Homo sapiens: one gene and its partners. The protein of the gene in region 3 interacts with the protein of the main gene of each other region in a pairwise test. Each region holds a gene or a part of one and is shown on either strand. Other genes may lie near its edges.

Region 1 (7,029 bases), on a different chromosome or scaffold from region 3:
TTACAAAAGGCCTTATAGTGAAGATTCATGGCTTCTCATTAAAAATAATAATGCTAAGAAAGTTTACATACAAATAACACCAAGGATGATTTATTGTGGTTTTACAGCGCCAATGAGGAAATTTAGTGCTTATAGAGGTTACAGAGGACCCCTTGAACCAGTGTAAAAAGATCAGCTATTCTACAGTGGAGAGCATTTCCTCTGTAGATCAAAGGAGCTTAAGCCTATGCTAAGTCTTTGGGGTGGTAAATGGAGTTCACACGTGCAATATCATTGCACTGTACAGGCCAAATGTATTTCTTATTCATCCTTTACTGCTCTGACCTTTCAACACTTTAGACATCCTTTTGTTATTCTTTCCATCAGTAAACCAGCTGTGGATCAGCTGAGGGCAGTAACTAATTTGCAGATGCGTCTGGAATGTTCTGTTTTTTACCCATTTGGGCTTGGGGTCTCATCTTACGTGTTGCAAATTGGAACTGAAACTTGTTATTATTTCTGCAGTCATTTACTATCCTGGTAGTATTTTTTATATCTTCGGTATGATATTCTAGGTGAGTAAGGTAGTAAATTTTCACCACAGTAAAGGTATAGTTTTGACCATTTGCTCAGAATATCAATGTAATGTTTTGTGTAGCATCTTAGCATTTGAAAGTCACGAGAGGTAAGATTTCTGGCCAGGGCATTTCTATGGAAAATAATAGCTGTGCCTCTTCTGTTAAAAAAAAGATGGGATGTGCAGAGTAACACAAGAAGAAAGCAAACAAACAAGCAAAAAGGACGTGCTTGATTTCCAGAAGGGAACATAAATGAAGGTTTTCTTGCCTTTGTTCATAGAGCTAGCATATGTTTTCACAAAATGTTTATATTTTGTGAATGGTTGTGCCTTGAAATCCTGCAATAATAATACTTAACCATAATCATTGTTAGTTGTTGTCATGTTAGCATATATTATCTTTTGGTTGGTATCGGAGTCAGCTGCAGAATGCCCTGCTTTTCTTCCCTACAAGTTCTGACTACCAGCCCTCTTAGTATCTAGTGGAACCAGCACCTTCTGAGCTGGCCGAGGGTAGGAGGTGTGCATGCCTATTGACCTGCACGGGAATAGAGGGAGAAGCCTTTGTCCTCCCTCACTAATCATGTGCTCTGACCCTTTGAGCTAACAATCTACTGGTTAGGCAATTGAAATGATATAAAGGAATAAGACCTGACATGTTGTTAATTGTGGACCTCCATTTAGAGTAAATCTACAAAGAAGAATTAATGTCTGGTTATTTGAATTCAGGGAGAAGATCCCTTGTGAACAAACAGATTGTTTACAATGTGCAATAGCTGTATTTATCCTTCTGTGAGTTGCTTATAATCCTTGATTCCAGCCTGAGATTACCAGTAGCAAAGCCCCTTCCCCAAACCACATAACAATTTGAATAACACCTCTGAAGGATAAAACTAAATGCAAGCCATACTGGAAAAATATTTTACCTAGAGCCCCCCCATTGACAGCATGTGGACTTGGAAACTCTGGAGAGGCCACTTTCGAGGCTGTGAAAGCAGGAAAGTCACTGAACTTAATGGAGCCTCTGTTCCTTCATCTGTAAAATGATAAATCTCTAGATAATAGAGTGAGTTAACTATGCATTGCTCAGCACATAGTTAGGCTTGCAGCGAAAGGTTTGTTTAATCTGAATCTGAGGAGAAAGGTCAAAATAATTGAGATCCAAAGTTTTAGATAAGGAGAAAGGAAGACATTTTAAAAATGGAGATGCGAAATGTGAAGATCAGGAAAATATATTTTTGAAGATTGAATTGTAAGAACCATATCATAGCTTTGTAGGCAGGGAAAATGATTTTCCCTTTCAGTGAGTAATTTAAAATATTAATAGTTTAAAAATAGTTTTATGTTAGATTCTAAACAATTAGGATTGATTTCCCATGGCAGGGCCCTCTTCCCTCATTCATCCTAGTCATAGGCCATGAAATGTTACAGGATAAGCATACTGCGGATGGACAAAAGGGAGGAAAAATAACCTGAAAAATTTTGTTAAATCATATTCGCATTTACATTTTATTTTTTATTCTGAGTGTAGTTTGTATGAGTAAAGCTAGAAGAAGCATTTTCCAAGTAGGTAGGAAGAGATACATTCGCAGGGAGAACTTTGTTCAGAGATGTCCTGAACACCTCCCACCCTGCTGATTAATTTTGAGCTGTGGATATTATAGGACGCTTGAAATGTTGATTCACATGGGCAGTGAATTCTGGGTGCTTATGGATAGTCCTGGAAATAGGGGATGTGGTTAGTCTGATGGGTTGTATGGGAGTGGATTGTGCTTGCCTAATAAATTCTTAGGCATTTTATAAACAGGAGAGTTAGTTGGTGCTGTAGTCCCAGATTGGTCTCTGTGTGATATATCTGGCTTTGCACAGGGCAACTCTTCATGCTCAAGATCCTCAGCCCTGACCCCTGCTAGCCACTCTCATATGCATATTTCTTATGATGAGGCAAATGAAGGGATAGTAGGGGAACCTTTGCTGGAAAAAACAATTCAGAGTGCATGGTCTGGTGATGGCGTGTCTGCTGCATTAACCTCATAGATAAGGAATGGTTTGTATGTGGTCATTGGGGATTTCGGGGTCTATTTGAAGTGAAAAACTGCATTTTTGTGAGCCTAAAGGCAGCTGACTTTGCCTTATCACTGTCTTTCATGGGCTTACATCCAGAGGTCCTAACCTTAAAGGTCAGCCAGAGAAACAGGGTAGTACAGTGAGAAAATTTTCAGCAATGTCTGACTCTTTGGCTGAGAGAGGGAGTCCTGACCCAGAAATATCCCCTGGGCAGGGAGGGATATTTTTGTTGTCGGTTCAAGTTATGTGAAGCAGTGTCTGGTTTTTACCAAGGCTGAAGTATCTCCAGGCATTGCTCTGCATTGGGACTTTTTTATTCATTTAATTCAGGTTGTGATCAATGACAGAAAAGCTGACTTTAGCTTCCTGGCTGGTAAAAATAAATGCTTATAGACATTAATGCATGCTAGAATACACACACACACACATATATACACATATACTTATATATGATATATACACAGATATGTATGTGTGTAATATATGTACATATGCACAGCATATATATGTCAATTTTTATTTTTACCAGAATAAAGTTTGCACATAGTTTAGAGTAAAATTACTCATGAGTGTTCTCACTAGTTTCAACAGATTATCCATCTCTACATCAAAGGGTACCAAGGAGGAACAATCAATACCAATAAACTCTCCAATTTGAGTTCATCCTGAGAGTAAAATTAGATCGGAAAGAAAACAAGACTAAGAGTCAGGTTTGAGTGAAATTCCAGGGTCTTTACTTTTATCAACCAACCTGACCCTCAGTTCCTCATTTTTCAGATAGGGAGCCATAATACCTACTCCATCCACCTCATAGAGTTGCTGTGAAAATCAGGTGACCTAATAGTGAAGATGAGTGTGTATTAGCTAAAATAAGGCATAGGGAGCATTATATGATCTTTAAAGACACCTAAGAGATGCACAGGCACTCAGAAGAGAATAACAACATACAGTAATTTTCCAGATTCTTGTGATTGTCCCTGGGGATATAATGGGGGCTGAAAGGAAGAGGAATAAGTGTTGTGCCTGATTCTCCCATAGGATGATGTGATAGCTACACTTTTCCCCCAAGAGCCATGGAGACAGGACAGGGGAGGGGGCAACTGACAAGAAAACCAGCCAGCTAAGGCTCCCATCTCCTGTTGGACAGCCCTTGTTTATAAGACATATACTCTATGGAGGTTGCAAGATTTTCTTTCTTTTCTTTTTTTTTTTTTTTTTTTCCCGAAACGGAGTCTTGCTTTTTGGCCCAGGCTGGAGTGCAGTGGCACAATCTCAGCTCGCTGCAACCGCTGCCTCCTAGGCACAAGTGATTCTCCTGCCTCAGCCTCCCTAGGAACTGGGATTACAGGCAAGCACCACCACACCTGGCTAATTTTTGTATTTTTAGTAGAGACGGGGTTTCACCATGTTACCAGGCTTGTCTCCAACTCCTGATCTCAAGTGATCCACCTGCCTTGGTGTTCCTAAGGGATTACAGGTGTGAGCCACTGGGACGAGGCAAGATTTTCTATTTAAAGTATCAAAACTTAGTCTTTTAGTTTGACTCCAGTGTGAGTCTGTATAGAAGACTAGTGGGAAGTAAAACTGACACATAATAGGCCCATGAGGAATATAGATGGGACCTTTTTCAGGTACAAGTGTCAAAAATCAACCCCAAACTGCTTAAAACTAACAAACAAGCAGATAAGCGTACTGGGAATTTGTTAGTTTAAACAGATTCACATGCCTTTATATGCCTTTCTGAAAACAGCTGAACACTTTTTGTAATCAGACCTTACCTGATCTGCACTTTCTTCATGGCAAAACCTACCCTGACCTAAACTGACATTAATTAGGCCCTTAGTTTGTTTCATTGCAGAAATATGAATTGAATTTGATTGCAGTGATGTTGTCCTTGATCCAGACAGAGGTGTATGTAATATACTCAAGTATGTGCCTCATTGTGCTATTCTCACCTGAATAATTCTGAGTTCTGAAACATATTTAAATCCAAGAGTTTCAAAAAAATGATTGTGGGCCTGTCCAGCTGAAAAGCCAGAGGTAGTGCTAATGTCAGCTGTTTCTCCTTTTCCCTCAGAAGGTGCTTTCTAGTAAGCAGCAAAGTTCATATGCTGCTTAGTACCTTTCTTATCCAGTATTGAAATTAACACCTGAAAAAGACTCCTGATCGTTGACTGGGGTCGTATCCCCACATGTGGGCCAATCACTTTGTCTAGGAGGGTAGCAGTATTTTGATGGGTGAGCTTGGGTCACATGTCCTCCCTCAAAGGGAGATGTTGACCTTTGATGGGCAGTCCACCAGTTGGGTAGGGACAGTTCCCCAAAGGAAAGTGGGATGCTGTTACTAGAATAAGAGAAAAGAGATGTGGGATAAGAAAAAAAAAAAAAACCCACTAGAGATCAGGTTTTATAGGCCCTAAATGCCTAGGCTAGAGAGTTTCAACCTTATTATTTTGGATAAGTTTATATTGAAGTTTATATTGAGGATCTCTGAGAAGGAGAGACAACAACCCACTGATTCTACCAGCACAAGTCTACCATGTAACATACAGATCAGAAAACATTCTCTGTTCTTGAGAAGCTAGAACATTTTCACCTATAATTATCATTTAGTAAGACAAATAGTAATGGACTTCTGGGTAGTATAGTATGGTTCAGTCACGCCTTGGGAGAGTCTGCTGGTAGCAGTGTGCACAATGAACTGAATGCATAATGGCAGAGTGGTTATTGTGTTGGCAATGATTATTGGTAATGGAAACAGGAGCCATGACAATGGAAAGATTTGGAAGTTCTTGTAGAGGATGATTCAATAGGGCTTGGTAACTAAATGGAAGTAGGGGATGAGGAGGAGGGAGAATGTGAAGATAGCTGTAAAGTTTTAGCCTTGGGACCAGGAGAATGGTGGACTGTTGTGTAGAATTAGGACAGTCTGCAGGATCATTTTGAGAACAAAAGAATAGGCTCAGCATTAGTTTATACTTAAGGTATACAACATGATATTTTGATATACATATACATAGTGAAATGATTATTACAGGTAAGCAAATTTACATATTTATTGTCTTCCATAATTACCCCTCCTTTTTGTGGTAAGGGCACCTGAAATCTAGTCTCTTAGCAAATAGTCAATAAACAACACAGTATTATTATGTTGTTTATCCCTAGTACTCCTGCTGCACATTCCATCTCTAGACAAATTCATCCTACATAACTGTGAGTTTGTACCCTTTGACCTACATCTCCCTCCTCCCTCTCCTCACCCCGGTAGTCACTGTTACACTCTGTTTCTATGTAATCAACATTTTCTCCCCTAAATTCCACATATAAGCGGGATCATCAGCATTCTTTTTGTTAGAAGATAGAAGGACATGCTTATAGAAATGTCTAGTAGGTGGAAGAGCATTTAGGTTGGGAAAGAAGTATAAATTAGCACTCATCATCAACCTCAGTATAAAGGAAGCTTGTGGAAGGGCTTAGGATTGTTAAGAGATGAAGCATGAAGAGAGGGGCACTGAGAAGAAAAGGCAGAGAAAAGAATGTCTCCACTTAGGGAGCGAGGGAGAACGGGAGTAGATGAAGGGGCCAGGAAGATGGAGAGAGCCACCAGAAGAAAGGGTGCCTCCTTTAGATGGTGTGCAGTAGTGAGAAGTGCTATAGAAAGAATCCAGGAGGATGTGTGTAAAGTGATAAGGAGGCTTCCAGTGCTCTTAGCACCAATGCTTGATTGAATAGTGGAGTGGAAGTCAGGTTGTGGGGCAGTAGAGAAACGGAGTACAACAGTTTTTCATTGGACATCTGCTTCTATCCACCTGCCAGCCTCCATTCGCTCCCTTCATCTCTTTCTTGCCAATGTGCTGGAGTAGTTAGGATCATAGGTTTAGAATTAAAAGGGTTTGAAACCTAATACTGCTCCTTCCTAGCTGGAGGACCCTAGATAAGTGTCTTAAGCTCTCTGTTCCTCAGTTTCTTCATGTGTGTAAGGGATATAATAACAAGAGTGATCCCCGCATACAATTGTTGTGAGGATGAGTTAAAAGTAGCTAGAATAGTATCTGACACACAAATACTCTGTAAATGAGAGTTATTATATCTTGTTTAAAATTTTTTTGGCCAGGTGAAGAGGCTCATGCCTGTAATCCCAGCACTTTGGGAGGCTGAGGGAGCTGGATCTCTTGAGGCCAGGAGATCAAGACCAGCCTGGGTAACATGGTGAAACCCTGTCTCTACTAAAAATACAAAAATTAGCCAGGTGTGGTGGTCTGTGCTTGTAGTTGCAGCTACCCGGGAGGCTGAGGTGGGACAGTTGCTTGAGCCCGGGAGGCTGAGGCATCAGTGAGCCGAGATCATGCCACTGCACTCCAGCCTGGGTGACGGAGCGAGACTCTGTCTCAAAAAAAAAAAAAAAA
Region 2 (7,029 bases), on a different chromosome or scaffold from region 3:
ACACTGGAAATAAACAATGTCTAATGAGATGGGGTCCCTGCCTGAGAGAAGCTCATGGCCTAGTGGGGGACACATGTCTTGCCATCTAGTGGGCGAAAAGCAATCATTCAGAGGCCACGGTGACCAGCTTTGCCTCAGGGAGTCGGGAAGGGCCTTGCAGAGGCTGTGATCTGTGGCAGGCCCTCACAGAAGCTCAGAAAGGCACGCGAGGACAGGCAGGAGGAAGCGCGCTCCAGAGGAGGGCCAGCACGTGCGAAGGCATGGAGGCATGAAAGGCCCTTGCACCTGGGAAGGCCAAAAAATCACCATATTTTTGCTGCTTTTTGTCTACAGACCAGCTGGCTATGGACAGGGAGGCTGCTTGGCTCTTTCCCACAAATAGGGAGGTTGGAGCCAGGCACTAGGGCTTGACCCCAGAAGGTGTCAGAGCTCCCAGAGTCCTTGCCTCTCTGCCCCCTGGGGCCATCTGCACCCTCTCCTCCCATCCTGCCTCCGCTCCTTCCCAATTAGAATGAAAATTGGCTCCTGTAATGCTGATGTGCCTACTTTCTTGTTAGAATCTTAATACCGTATGAATCACAAGTCCCAGCTGCCTTGGCATGGTGGTCAGGGTCAGAGGTTTGAATTAAAGCAACACATGGTCCTGATGGCTTCATCTGGGGGATGCTGAGGTAGGGGAGAGGCTGCTCCTCCTTTTCCACCGATAATGCGAGTACCACCAAGGCTGCTGACCGCAGCCTTTTCCCTCAGAAAGTTCTAAGCACCTTGTAACACCCCCTGATAATAAGAGTATTCGTACCTTTTATTGAGCATTTTACAAGTATAATTTCATTTATTTGTCAGATGACTTGCTGATGTGTAGTTAGGTGACGTGCCTGAGATTTCATAGCTAGTCATAATAGAGCCAGATTTTGAGACCTCCCATCTCGGGGACCTTAGACAGCTCAAGCACCACTTTCTAATACCACTCCAATCAAAAGGAATGATTTTAGCCTGAGGATGCTGGATGGCTTGATCTTCTGCCATAAGAGCCCCCAAACCTCCCCTAGCTTCCAGGACAAAACTCTGACTTATTCAGACGTTCGCCACACCTTAATTGCATGCTGGGTGCCAGGCACAGGGCTGTGGCCTGAACAAGTCCTAGGGATGCATAGACTCAGCCATCCTGTGGCCTCCCTCCCAATGGGGTCACGACTCTCTTCCCACTGCCACCCAGAGCCTTCTCATTCTTTAATGTGACCTGTTCAGTCTTCCCCACCACTGCATTTCTCTCCTTCTTAGCCTCTACAGGGCTCATCACCCAAACCACAGCATTGAGTGCTGTGCTTTTGCTTTCCTTCACTCAGCAGGCATTTGTATGTCATTTGTATGTGGAAGGCACTGGGGATACATTCAGTATCCCAGTGCCGTCATGAAGCACAGTCTGAGAGAGGGAGACAGATGCGTAGTCAGTGCACGGGCTGCAGCATGTGGGGGACTGAGAGAGACACCTGCCCTGCTCTCTTTCTCACCTCCACTCAGTCCTATAAAGTGGCATCATGAAGCAATGGAAGAAAGACTGGACCCAAATCGGAAGACCTGAGCTGGTGCTACCATCTGGGGGACACTGGAGGAGTCATTCCATCTCTTCATCTGCAAAGTGGGAATAACAATACCTAACCTGCCTGCCTTTCAGAGTTTCAATGATGTGCTTTATTAAATAAAATGATGATTTTTTAATGAATAAAATGCATGAAAGCATTTTACAGGTTATAAAGCACTATACAAGTAGTACTCTTCTGTCTCCTAGCCATGCCTAGCATAAATCTGGGCACATAGTAGATATTCAGTAAATAGCAGTTAACTTAAATTGATCCATTCACCCCGCCTACCACCTTCTATGGGCGTTTGAGGCCATTGGAAACCCTAACACTGACAATGCCTGCCCTGCCTGCTGGGGGCGGCAGTGAGGATCAAGTGAGAAGGATGTGCCTTGGAAGCTGTCAGTACTGAACCATCTTGGTCTTGGGAAACCTCCCTGGCTCCCCATTGTGGGGGCTTGGCTGAGGACTGGCCAGCCCGGGATGTGGAGTCTCGGGCATGGGGCAACCTTCCTCCAAGCCCTAGGTCCATTCTCTGTGGGGAGCAAACATGACACTTCCCCAATTTTGGTTCCCAAACCACTCGGGCTGCCTGGCTCAGGATAGTGCCCATGGCGTGGGCACAGTCCCTTGGGGGGGCCAGATCAGCATATGCCCAGCCCTCACTAGTCTCCACCTCTCGTTTCAGCACCCCTACCCCACGGAGGATGAGAAGAGGCAGATCGCAGCCCAGACCAACCTCACCCTCCTGCAAGTAAACAACTGGTGAGTTTGCATCACCTGCATGCAGGCTCCCAGATCCAGGGGCCACCTTCTGGGCAGGGGAATGCGTAGCAGGGAAAAGAGACTCGAATGCCAGGATCTGCCTCAATCTCAGCCCAGCTACCATGCCAGTCCCCCCATTTAGGCTAGAAGCAGAAAGCAAGAATCAACACTGGCACCTGTGGCTTCATCTGCAGCTTCTCAGCGCCCTCTGCTGGGACATTGTGTCAGGCACATCCCTGGAAGCTTCTTGAGGAAGAGAAAACCCACGCCCACCTGAGCACCCAGCCCACCTGCACTTCAGAGACAGACAGGATTGCCCGCAGCTGTGCACCGGAGGCCAGTGGTCATCTGGTCTTCCCCACCCCCATGTGAACTGAGACTAAAACTAGCTGCAAAGCTGGGAGTGGGGAGAGGGAGGAGGAGTAGCCATTCTGACCCCACAGGGATCTCAGCTTTCCCAGTCTCTGTGCCTGGCTGGGCTGTCAGGGGAGCTCAGAGAGCAAGGTCTGGCTGGATGGAAGTAGACCCCAGAGCTGAGGGCCCTGATCCGAGCCCTTGGCTCTCTGGAGAGAAGTCAGAGGTTAGTGCCTATGACTACCATGCTCTCCTCCTCCGTTCAACCTGGAAGGTCTTGAGCAGGGATTTCTGACCCCCCATGCATTCTTCCCATATGACTTTGCAGTTACCAAGCCCCAGGAAATTTCATGAACTTCTCAGCACCCAGGGCCCTCCTCCTTGCTGGGCTTTTACATCCGGGATGGGAACCCCGGTCTGCTCTGTGAAATGGAGTCTGAAGGCAGCTTCACCCTCCCTGCCCCCACCCCAAGGCCATGCAGGTGATGACTAACCAGGTCTCCACTTTACCTCTGGGCAGGTTCATCAATGCCCGGAGGCGCATCCTGCAGCCCATGCTTGATGCCAGCAACCCAGATCCTGCCCCCAAAGCCAAGAAGATCAAGTCTCAGCACCGGCCCACCCAAAGATTCTGGCCCAACTCCATCGCTGCGGGGGTGCTGCAGCAGCAGGGCGGTGCCCCAGGGACAAACCCCGATGGTAAGAACTGGGGCTGAGTGCACCCTAGACAAGGGCTGGGGGTGCTCCTGGAGCTTCTTCAGGTCAAGCCGTGCAAAGATTCAAGGGCTATCTCCTTACCTGGGCTCCCATCGCTGCCATGCCACAGTGATTATCCCTCCCCAAAGCCCTAAAGAAGGGGATGTTTTTGTACATAATTTAACAGACCAGATGCACTCTCATAAAGAAAAGCGGGAGTTGGTGGTCACGCAAGTCAGTGACTGCTCAGCAGAGCCCCCCATGTCCGCACCCATCTGAGTTCCTTAGCACCAGTAAGTATCTGCACAGCTCTTCAGGAGCCAAGGCCATCTATAAATATCAAGGCAGGCAGCTGGCTCGTGAACAGGGGCCAGGAAGAGCTCTGTTTTCCCAGCCTCTCCATCACACCCTCCATATACACTTTTCTAATTGCCAGTCGCCTAGTGCACAATGAATAATTCAATGAGCCAAGCATTTTATAGCTTGGCATATGAAGATAGCTCTGTATGGGGAGTGGAGCGTAGGTGTGCGTGTGTGCACACATAACCTCATGCACACGTGTATGTGTATGGTTGTGCACAGGTTCCTTTGTGATGAGCCATCTTATGGGTTATGATGGGAAAAAAAAAAACAGATTTAGGGGGCTGGACCAGCCTGGGAGAAAATTCCAACTCTGTCATCGCTGACAATGTCATCTTGAGCTAATGACTTAACTGTCTGAGACAGAATGGGGATAATAATACCTGCCTTACAGAATTGTTAGAAAGTCAAAAGTGGCCAACACATAAAGAAAATGTGCAGTGAACGGTGGCTGGGAGTGCTGCTTCCTGAGATGGGGCAGGGAGTAGCTGACTAGTGAATGGATGGGAGACTTCATACCAGGGCATTGTCCAGCTCAGGCTTGGACAGCTCTAAAAACAAGGAGTTCACTGCTCTATGAGCCAGTCCATTAAACCCTGTCCAACACAGAGGTGCTGGCCCTGACCAGCAGCCCCTGCCTCGTCCTGACCCTTGCTTTCTCTCGCAGGTTCCATCAACTTGGACAACCTGCAGTCCCTGTCCTCAGACAGTGCCACCATGGCCATGCAGCAGGCTATGATGGCTGCACACGATGACTCATTGGATGGGACAGAAGAAGAGGATGAGGATGAGATGGAAGAGGAGGAGGAGGAGGAGCTGGAGGAGGAGGTCGACGAGCTGCAGACGACAAATGTCAGCGACCTGGGCTTGGAACACAGTGACTCCCTGGAGTAGTCGGGCAGCCCAGATGGCACTGATCACTGAGCAGGAGAGGAGTGTCGCCGGGAGGCCTTCAGGGTGGGGGGGAAGGGGACATGGGCAGGAAGCACCGAGGGAGTTGGGCCCTAGCTTCCCCAAATCAGTAGCTTGAAGAAAGGCAAAGGAGACACCTGTTCCTTCCCAACCACCGAGCTTCAATGAGGACCCCAGCCCCACTTCCCTGGAACTGCCGAGGACTCTGTTTGGCGGGGCCAGTCGAGCAGCCTGTGTGGAAAGACAGGAGTGAGATCTGGACTCACCAAATCCCTGAGGATAGATGGCACCCATGGCCCCCACCCACGGAAGGACTTGAGTTGTTTACAAGCCCTGCACTGAGGCAGATTGGTGCTGTTCGCAGAGTAGGCCTTTGCCCGGGGGCAGACTTAGAAGGAAGGGGAGAGACAAAGGGGGACTGAGTTTCATCCCCAGAAGTTTCTCAGCTCCTTTGACAGACATTCAAGGGCAGGAGGGAGCCCCAAAGCATAACCAGTGGCCAGAGGAGTGGGAGGGCCTGAGGCATCACATCTTGCAGATCAGAATGGGATGGAATCCACCAGGCTCCAGCTCATCCCTCCAAGGCCCTGTCTCTGCGCACAGCAACCATGGACATGGGAGAAAGGGATGGGAGCCACAGTGCCCTTCACTCTCTCCTGGAAACCAACTGTAAGCTGGTGGGCTCAACCTGTGGGAGGTTAAGAGGAGTCCCTTCTGGGTTGACTCCAAGAGCCAAGGAGATGGCAGACCCTGGGCTAGGAACCATATGGAGGTGACTTTGAGGCCACAGCTGTCCCTAGGTGATCACAGAACTTAGCTCCTTTAACAACAGGACAATGGTTTTTTACCCTAGATGTTCCCACCTTCAGTGCTCCACGCCCTCCATAGACCTTCAGAGAAGGTGAAACCAGGTTATCTGGGAATCTTTCCAGCCCGCAGGTCGCCACGGCCATCCCTTTGCTCCCAGCCTGGCTCCATCAGCCTCCAGCTTCCTTTCTTCATTCTGTCCTTCAGGGAAGGCAGAAGAAACATTGGAAAGCATCTAGTCCAGTGGGAAGCCAGGGGTTGGAGAAGGTGCTACATCCCTCTTCCCATCAATATCCTAAATGTGGGGGAGGGCCCAGAGAATGGCACCCAAGAGCCTGCGGGGATGCCCATCCCACACACCCCACCCAGCTGTTCTAACCCTGCTATCCACAGCCCTGGAGGAACTGGGGCTCCTGGAAGGAGGAGGAGGCTCTCCACTGTCCACCCTAACACATACCCTCCCACCCACCTTCCAGACCCCCTTGGTTGGCACCCTCTCCTCCGGTTCCCTCTCACCCCATGGCTGTGAATGACAGGACAGGTCACACGTGTGTTTTCCATTGGGTTTAATTTAATGGACGTGCAGTTTCATTTGTAAATTGTGCATTGGCCACCTCCTTCAGTGGCAGGATGTGAGTGGCTACCTGGCTCAACTGGAGGGGACCCCTTGGGCCCTCTGGGGCTTCCCCTCCCCCACCTGGTTGGGGTAGAGCAAAAGGATGGTCACTCTTCCGAGGTCTCCCTGAAATGAATGTATTTCTCCCCCAAAAGAGCTGATATTTAATGTTTTAATAAGGATTTTTGAGAAACAAATAACCTTATTTATAATCTGGGTGATCCAATCATTTTTTACTCCCTTTTGATGCCATACATAGAGGAAAGTCTAGCTTTTTTGGCGTGAGACTTTTGCAATGTGCAGTGGGATAAAATGCATTTCCTTTTCTGGTTCGTTTTTCTTGTTAACACGCGCACACAGACACACACACACACCGTTCCACTCACCACCTGGACAGGCGTCCCCCAGCACGGACACACTGGCACACAGGTGCCCACATCTCTTCCTCTCAGCCCCTCCACCTGCCTAATGTTATGCAACCTCCTTCTGATGTATCCACCAAACCAGTACTGAATGTGGCCGAGACGTTTTCAGTAAATCTTATTACCTACCGTAACCCTGGTGCACAATTCTCTTTCTGTGGTTGCTGTGGCAATCCTTTGCTCTTTTCATGGGACCAGAGGCCAGACAAAATTTGGAGGCCTCAGTATACACCTGACTACCCAGGGAAGGGGACAAGGTAGATGTGCGTCCTGCGTGAGCTCAGCTGCCCTGTCTGGGGAGGAAGAGCCAATTTCAGCACACTCACCTTGTGTGCGGCCGGTTGTAAGGCAGAGCTAGGGAGAGAAGGCAAGGAAGCTCTGCACTGCCCTCTCCTGACAGCTTCCCCGACCGCAGCGGAAGCTATGAATCTGGTCCCTCTTGTCCACCATACTCCACCTCCCTCAAAGGCTTTTGCTTTCCTGTCTCCATTCCCGGCCTTGAATCCCAGGGATCAGC
Region 3 (7,029 bases):
ATCCCAGCCCTTTGGAAGGCTGAGGCGGGAGGATCACCTGAGGTCAGGAGTTCGAGACCAGCTTAGCCAACATGATGAAACCCCATCTCTACTAAAAATACAAAAATTAGCTAGGTGCGGTGGCACATGCCTGTAATCCCAGCTACACTGGGGGCTGAAGCGGGAGAATCACTTGAATCCAGGAGGCGGAGTTTGCAGTGAGCTGAGATTGCGCCAGTGTGCTCCAGCCTGGGTGACAGAGCGAGACTCCGTCTCAAAAAAAAAAAAAAAAAAAAAAAGCACAGACAGTGGAGTGCATACGTGCAAATCTCAGCCGTGCTGTTTGCTGGCTGTGTGGCCTCTCAGCTTCGTTAACCGTAAAATGGAGCAAGTCATCCTACCTTATAGGACCATGGTCAGGGCTGAGTGACTCGGTCAGTGAAGCGCTTGGTGCGATGCCTAGCACATGGTAGTGTCTAATAGGTCAGCTGTGACTGTTTGCAATGCCAGCCTCAGCTCCCGGGAGTCCCCAGCTGTGCTAACACCATGCTCTGCCCACAGGTGTACCCCGTCCAGGAAGCCCTGGCCGTGCTGGAGCCCTATGCGCGGCTGCCCCCGCACAAGCATGTGGCTCGGCCCACTGAGGTCCTGGCTGGTACCCAGCTCCTCTACGCCTTTTTCACTCGGACCCATGGGGACATGCACAGCCTGGTGCGAAGCCGCCACCGTATCCCTGAGCCTGAGGCTGCCGTGCTCTTCCGCCAGATGGCCACCGCCCTGGCGCACTGTCACCAGCACGGTCTGGTCCTGCGTGATCTCAAGCTGTGTCGCTTTGTCTTCGCTGACCGTGAGAGGTGAGTGTGGTCTCAGAGACCCCAGCCACAGACACACCCAGGGGGTGGGCCATGATGGAGAGAAACCGAGGCCCAGGAAGGCAAGGTAACTTAGGCAAGAAGTGGGAGAAACTGAAGTAACCAGCAGCCCCTGTTTAGTTCCCTGAGAAGAGTTGACTCAGGCCAGGTGCAGTGGCTCACGCCTTTAATCCCAGCACTTTGGGAGGCCGAGGTGGGTGAATCACTTGAAGTCAGGAGTTCGAGACCAGCCTGGCCAACATGGTGAAACTCCGTCTCTACTAAAAATACAAAAATTAGCCTAGTGTGGTGGCGCACACCTGTAATCCCAGCTACTCTGAAGGCTGAGGCAGGAGAACTGCTTGAACCTGGGAGGCGGAAGTTGCAGTGAGCCAAGATCACGCCACTGCACTCCAGCCTCGGCAACAGAGTGAGATTCCATCTCAAAAAAAAAAAAAAGAGTTGACTCAGTCCTCTTGGGAGCCCCTTGGGATTCTGGGATGGAGCACTGAGATGTGAAAGTCATAGTAGCCGACAGTGACGAAAGCATCGCCACATTATCTAACGTGGTCTTCCATCCTTACAAACACGAGGCAGGTACTGTTATTATCCCCATATGATCAAGGAAACTGAGGCCCAGAGAGCTCAAGTAACTTGCCCAAGATCCCATAGCAGAATAAATGGTAGAGCTGGGATTTGAACCTAGATCTGACTCCAGAGCCTGGGTCTTAATTCAATCTGAGCTTGAGAGGCAGGGGCCTGGCTGGGCTTACCAACTGACTTTGGGTGACCTAGTGTCTCTGAGCCTCAGTTTCTCCGTTGGTAAGGAAAAGGGCTGGATTGTTAGGGTGTTTTCAGGATTCCAAGACCACAGCCAAAATAGGGTCTGAGGTTCCCCACACGGGAACGTTTTCTGTGAAACTGAGAATTAGCACTTTTTGGTTAAAAGAATCTTCCTTCTCTAGGTTGGGATGCTAAGAATTTTTTTTTTTTTAATTGAGACAGAGTCTCACTCTGTCACCCAGGCTGGAATGCAATGGCGCGATCTTGGCTCACTGCAACCTCTGCTGCCTGGGTTCAAGTGATACGCCTGCCTCAGCCTCCCGAATAGCTGGGACTACAGGCATGCGCCACCATGCCTGGCTCATTTTTTCTATGTTTAGTAGAAACGGGGTTTTGCCATGTTGGCCAGGCTGGTCTTGAACTCTTGACCTTAGGTGATCCGCCTGCCTCGGCCTCCCAAAGTGCTGGGATTACAGGTGTGAGGTACTGCACCCAGCCTAGACGCTAAGAAAAATTTTTAAAAGATAATTCTGGGGAGAAGGGCAGAGAGACTCGCCTCCTGTTCCCTCTCCAGATTCCTGGGGGCAGTCAAGATGTGTCAGGGAGTGCACTAAGCTGCCAGTTACACAGGAGTTTTCTGTGGAGAAAGGAGTGTGACCCCATGGCATTTTAAAAAACTTTTTATCTTGAAATAATTTTAGACTTTTAGAAAACCTACAAAAATAGTTCAAAGAGTTTCTGCATATCCTTTAACCAGTGCTCTCCAATGTTAACACCTGACGTAGCTATGGTACAATTACCCAAACTATTAACTAAGCCACAGATTGATTCCCACTTCCCGAGTTTCCCACTAACACCCCTTGCTGTGCAGGATCCAGTGAGGATCCCAATTTAGTCATCAGTGGTTTCCTTGGTCTCTTCCAATCTGAGACAGTTCCTCAGTCTTTCCCTGTCTTTGAAGACCCATGACCTTGACACTTTTTTTTTTTTGAGACAGGGTCTCACTCTGTCACCCAGGCTGGAGTGCAGTGGTGTGATCACAGCTCACTGCAGCCTCAACCTCCCGGGCTCAAGTGATCCTCCCACCTCAGCCTCCTGAGTAGTTGGTTCTACAGGTGTGTGCCACCCCACCTGGCTAATTGAGATGGGGTCTTGCTATGTTGCCCAGGCTGGTCTCAGACTCCTGAGCTCAAGCAATCTGCCTGCCTCAGCCTCCCAAAATCCTGGGATTATAGGCGTGAGCCACTGCTCCTGGCCATAACCTTGAGACTTTTGAAGAGTACTGATCAGTTACTTTGTATGTCCCTCAATTTGGATTTGATTGATGTTTTCTCACAGTTAGATTGCAGTTATGTATTTTTGGCAAGAACAACACAGAATCGATAGGCCCCTCTCCACATCATATCAAGAGATACTTGAGCTGATAGTCATTCCTATGTCGTGACCTTGATCACTTGGTTAGGGCAGGACCTACCAGGTTTCTCTACTGTAAGGTCCTAATTTACCCTTTGTAATTGACAAATACCTTGGGGGAGGTAAGCTAGGCATATAAATATCCTGTTTTTCCTCAACTTTCACCCACTAATTTTAGCAGCCATCCATCTTGCCTATAGCAGTTATTATTGTGGTGCTTGCCTAAGTCTAATTTTCTTTTTCTTTTTTTTCTTTCTTTCTTTTTTTTTTTTTTTTGAGACAGAGTCTCGCTCTGTTGCCCAGGTTGGAGTGCAGTGGCACGATCTCGGCTCACTGCAACCTCCACCTCCCGGGTTCAAGTGATTCTCGTGCCTCAGCCTCTTGAGCAGCTGGGATTACAGGCACACACCACCACACTTGGCTAATTTTTGTATTTTTAGTAGAGATGGGGTTTTGCCATGTTGGCCAGGCTGGTCTCGAAATCCGCCTGCCTTGGCCTCCCAAAGTGCTGGGATTATAGGCATGGGCCGCTGCGCCCAGCCCCCAAGGCTGATTTTCTGTTAATATTTCCTTCTACATTTTATATTAGAACAAGCATGCCTTTTTTAAAGAAGTAACATTTATAATGATGTTTAAGCTAGTACATAACTTCAAACACATTTTAGGCTTAGGGTAGATACAACTACCCCGGACCTCCTGGAGGAGACAGCGTGCTTCCTGCTCTTTTCAAGAAGTCACTTGATGGCCCACACCTGTTATCCCAGTGCTTCGGGAAGCCAAAGTAGGAGGACTGCTTGAGCCCAGGAGTTCGAGGCCAGCCTAGGCAACACAGAAAACCCCATCTGTACAAAAAATTTATAAAAATTAGCCAGGTGTGGTGATGCACACCTGTGATCCCAGCTACTTGGGAGGCTGAGGCAGGAGGATTGCTTGAGCCCAGAAGTTTGAGGCTGCAGTGAACTAGGATTGCACCACTGCACTCCAGCCTGGGTGGCAGAGTGAGACCCTATCTCTAAAGAAAAAAAAGAAAAAAAAAAAGAAAAATCACATGAGAGTCATTGGTAGAAGAGGGACCGTGAGTTAGATAGACCTGTGTTTAAATCCTGGGTTCTGCTTCTTACCTGCTTTTTGGCCCTGAGCAAATGACTTCACCTGCCTGAGCCTTTGTTTCTTCATCTGTAAAATGGGCTAATAATGCTGACACCCCTTGTCCCCCAATACTGTGATTCATAGGATTGGTCAGTATTTGTGAAATGCCACTGGACACCCAGGAAGTAATGCCATAAAGAAGAAACTAATAGCAGTGGTAATAGAATGATTACTATTAAAGTCATCTTTGAGTGCTCAGTGGAAGTTGTTTAAAGTAGAAATTGCAAATGGCAGGACACACTTTTTTTTTTTTTTTGAGACAGGGTCTCACTCTGTCACCCAGGCCGGAGTGCAGTGGCGCGATCTCAGCTCACTGCAACCGCCACCTCCTGGGCTCAAGTCATATCCTTCTGCCTCAGCCTCCCAAGTAGCTGGGACTACAGGTGCGAATCACCATGCCTGCTAATTTTCGTATTTTTTGTAGAGATAGGTTTTTACCGTGTTGCCCAGGCTGGTCTTGAACTCCTGAACTCAAGTGATCCCCCTACCTCGGCCTCCCAAAGTGCTAGGATTACCGGCATGAGCCACCGCGCCCAGCCTTACACACTTTTTTTTTTGCCCTGCTTACCTGTTTGTGTTTTTTATATAAACTGGTTGCCAATATTTTTTAAATGGGGACCTTTTCATTAAAATACAATTCCTGGCTTCTCTTGGGGAAAACAATGGGAATGTGGGGCCATCTTGGGAACTGCGAGGGTGGGTCACAGCACTGGCTCTGAGTATCTGCCAGCCAGCGTTCCCATCCCAGGCCCATGCTCTACAGCTGTAAAATGGTGTCTTCCTTGCAGGCTGTAGCCTAGATAGAATGAGGTGAGCCAGGTAATGAGCTGGGTCAAGGGCCAGGAACACAGCAGGCACTTGGTAAACCCTAGAATGCGTTGTGTACCCTTTTTAGGTAGCGCTTGTGCTGAGATGTCAGGCACACTTCCTGTTTCTCTCATCTTATTACCTGCCTGGACCCTAAGTTTGTAGCTGGTTTAAGAGAGGCTTAACCCTCTCAGCCCCATCAGCCCCCTCCCCAAGGGACTCTGTTGAAAAATGTATTCCTTTCAGAATTTTAGTTTAAATTTAATTGCTCTGTGGCCTTAAATGACTTAACCTCTCTGAGCCTGGGCTTGGGTATCTGTAAAACAGGATCAGACATCACAGGACTGGCTTGTGTCTGTCAAAGGCCAGCAGGCACTTGGAAAGTGGGTGCCACAAGGGTGATAGCATGGGGTGGTGGCATGGGGGTTCTGGGTAGGACCTGACCCTTCTGTTTCTCCCCATGTCCCAGGAAGAAGCTGGTGCTGGAGAACCTGGAGGACTCCTGCGTGCTGACTGGGCCAGATGATTCCCTGTGGGACAAGCACGCGTGCCCAGCCTACGTGGGACCTGAGATACTCAGCTCACGGGCCTCATACTCGGGCAAGGCAGCCGATGTCTGGAGCCTGGGCGTGGCGCTCTTCACCATGCTGGCCGGCCACTACCCCTTCCAGGACTCGGAGCCTGTCCTGCTCTTCGGCAAGATCCGCCGCGGGGCCTACGCCTTGCCTGCAGGCCTCTCGGCCCCTGCCCGCTGTCTGGTTCGCTGCCTCCTTCGTCGGGAGCCAGCTGAACGGCTCACAGCCACAGGCATCCTCCTGCACCCCTGGCTGCGACAGGACCCGATGCCCTTAGCCCCAACCCGATCCCATCTCTGGGAGGCTGCCCAGGTGGTCCCTGATGGACTGGGGCTGGACGAAGCCAGGGAAGAGGAGGGAGACAGAGAAGTGGTTCTGTATGGCTAGGACCACCCTACTACACGCTCAGCTGCCAACAGTGGATTGAGTTTGGGGGTAGCTCCAAGCCTTCTCCTGCCTCTGAACTGAGCCAAACCTTCAGTGCCTTCCAGAAGGGAGAAAGGCAGAAGCCTGTGTGGAGTGTGCTGTGTACACATCTGCTTTGTTCCACACACATGCAGTTCCTGCTTGGGTGCTTATCAGGTGCCAAGCCCTGTTCTCGGTGCTGGGAGTACAGCAGTGAGCAAAGGAGACAATATTCCCTGCTCACAGAGATGACAAACTGGCATCCTTGAGCTGACAACACTTTTCCATGACCATAGGTCACTGTCTACACTGGGTACACTTTGTACCAGTGTCGGCCTCCACTGATGCTGGTGCTCAGGCACCTCTGTCCAAGGACAATCCCTTTCACAAACAAACCAGCTGCCTTTGTATCTTGTACCTTTTCAGAGAAAGGGAGGTATCCCTGTGCCAAAGGCTCCAGGCCTCTCCCCTGCAACTCAGGACCCAAGCCCAGCTCACTCTGGGAACTGTGTTCCCAGCATCTCTGTCCTCTTGATTAAGAGATTCTCCTTCCAGGCCTAAGCCTGGGATTTGGGCCAGAGATAAGAATCCAAACTATGAGGCTAGTTCTTGTCTAACTCAAGACTGTTCTGGAATGAGGGTCCAGGCCTGTCAACCATGGGGCTTCTGACCTGAGCACCAAGGTTGAGGGACAGGATTAGGCAGGGTCTGTCCTGTGGCCACCTGGAAAGTCCCAGGTGGGACTCTTCTGGGGACACTTGGGGTCCACAATCCCAGGTCCATACTCTAGGTTTTGGATACCATGAGTATGTATGTTTACCTGTGCCTAATAAAGGAGAATTATGAAATAATTTTATTTTTCTCTGCAATTTCTTCCATCCTTTCCAACGATCTCTTACCAGTTTTTCCTGCCTTCAAAACTGGCCCCCATGGTGAAAGGCCGTAGAGTTGTGTCTTAACCTGGGCTGAGTGGTTTGTGAGAACAGATTACCTGGAGCCCAGTGGGTCTTCCTGCACTCCTTCTGTTTCTTCTGGCAGCAGCAGTGTCTCTATTAGGGTACTTTCTG

Evidence for each region. The genes of interacting proteins can lie anywhere in the genome.
Region 1: the proteins of TRIB3 (region 3) and PCSK5 interact in binary tests that used the Homo sapiens proteins (3 or more experiments, as listed by UniProt).
Region 2: the proteins of TRIB3 (region 3) and PKNOX2 interact in binary tests that used the Homo sapiens proteins (3 or more experiments, as listed by UniProt).

Annotation. Positions count from the first base shown.
Region 1 is NC_000009.12:75,893,666-75,900,694, forward strand, and holds part of PCSK5 (proprotein convertase subtilisin/kexin type 5 isoform 3 precursor), read left to right. Parts: intron 1-7,029. UniProt on the Homo sapiens protein: Serine endoprotease that processes various proproteins by cleavage at paired basic amino acids, recognizing the RXXX[KR]R consensus motif. Likely functions in the constitutive and regulated secretory pathways.
Region 2 is NC_000011.10:125,426,744-125,433,772, forward strand, and holds the end of PKNOX2 (homeobox protein PKNOX2), read left to right. Parts: intron 1-2,268; coding exon 2,269-2,345; intron 2,346-3,219; coding exon 3,220-3,398; intron 3,399-4,422; coding exon 4,423-4,649; 3' UTR 4,650-6,646; downstream 6,647-7,029.
Region 3 is NC_000020.11:390,747-397,775, forward strand, and holds the end of TRIB3 (tribbles homolog 3), read left to right. Parts: intron 1-540; coding exon 541-833; intron 834-5,451; coding exon 5,452-5,944; 3' UTR 5,945-6,813; downstream 6,814-7,029. UniProt on the Homo sapiens protein: Inactive protein kinase which acts as a regulator of the integrated stress response (ISR), a process for adaptation to various stress. Inhibits the transcriptional activity of DDIT3/CHOP and is involved in DDIT3/CHOP-dependent cell death during ER stress.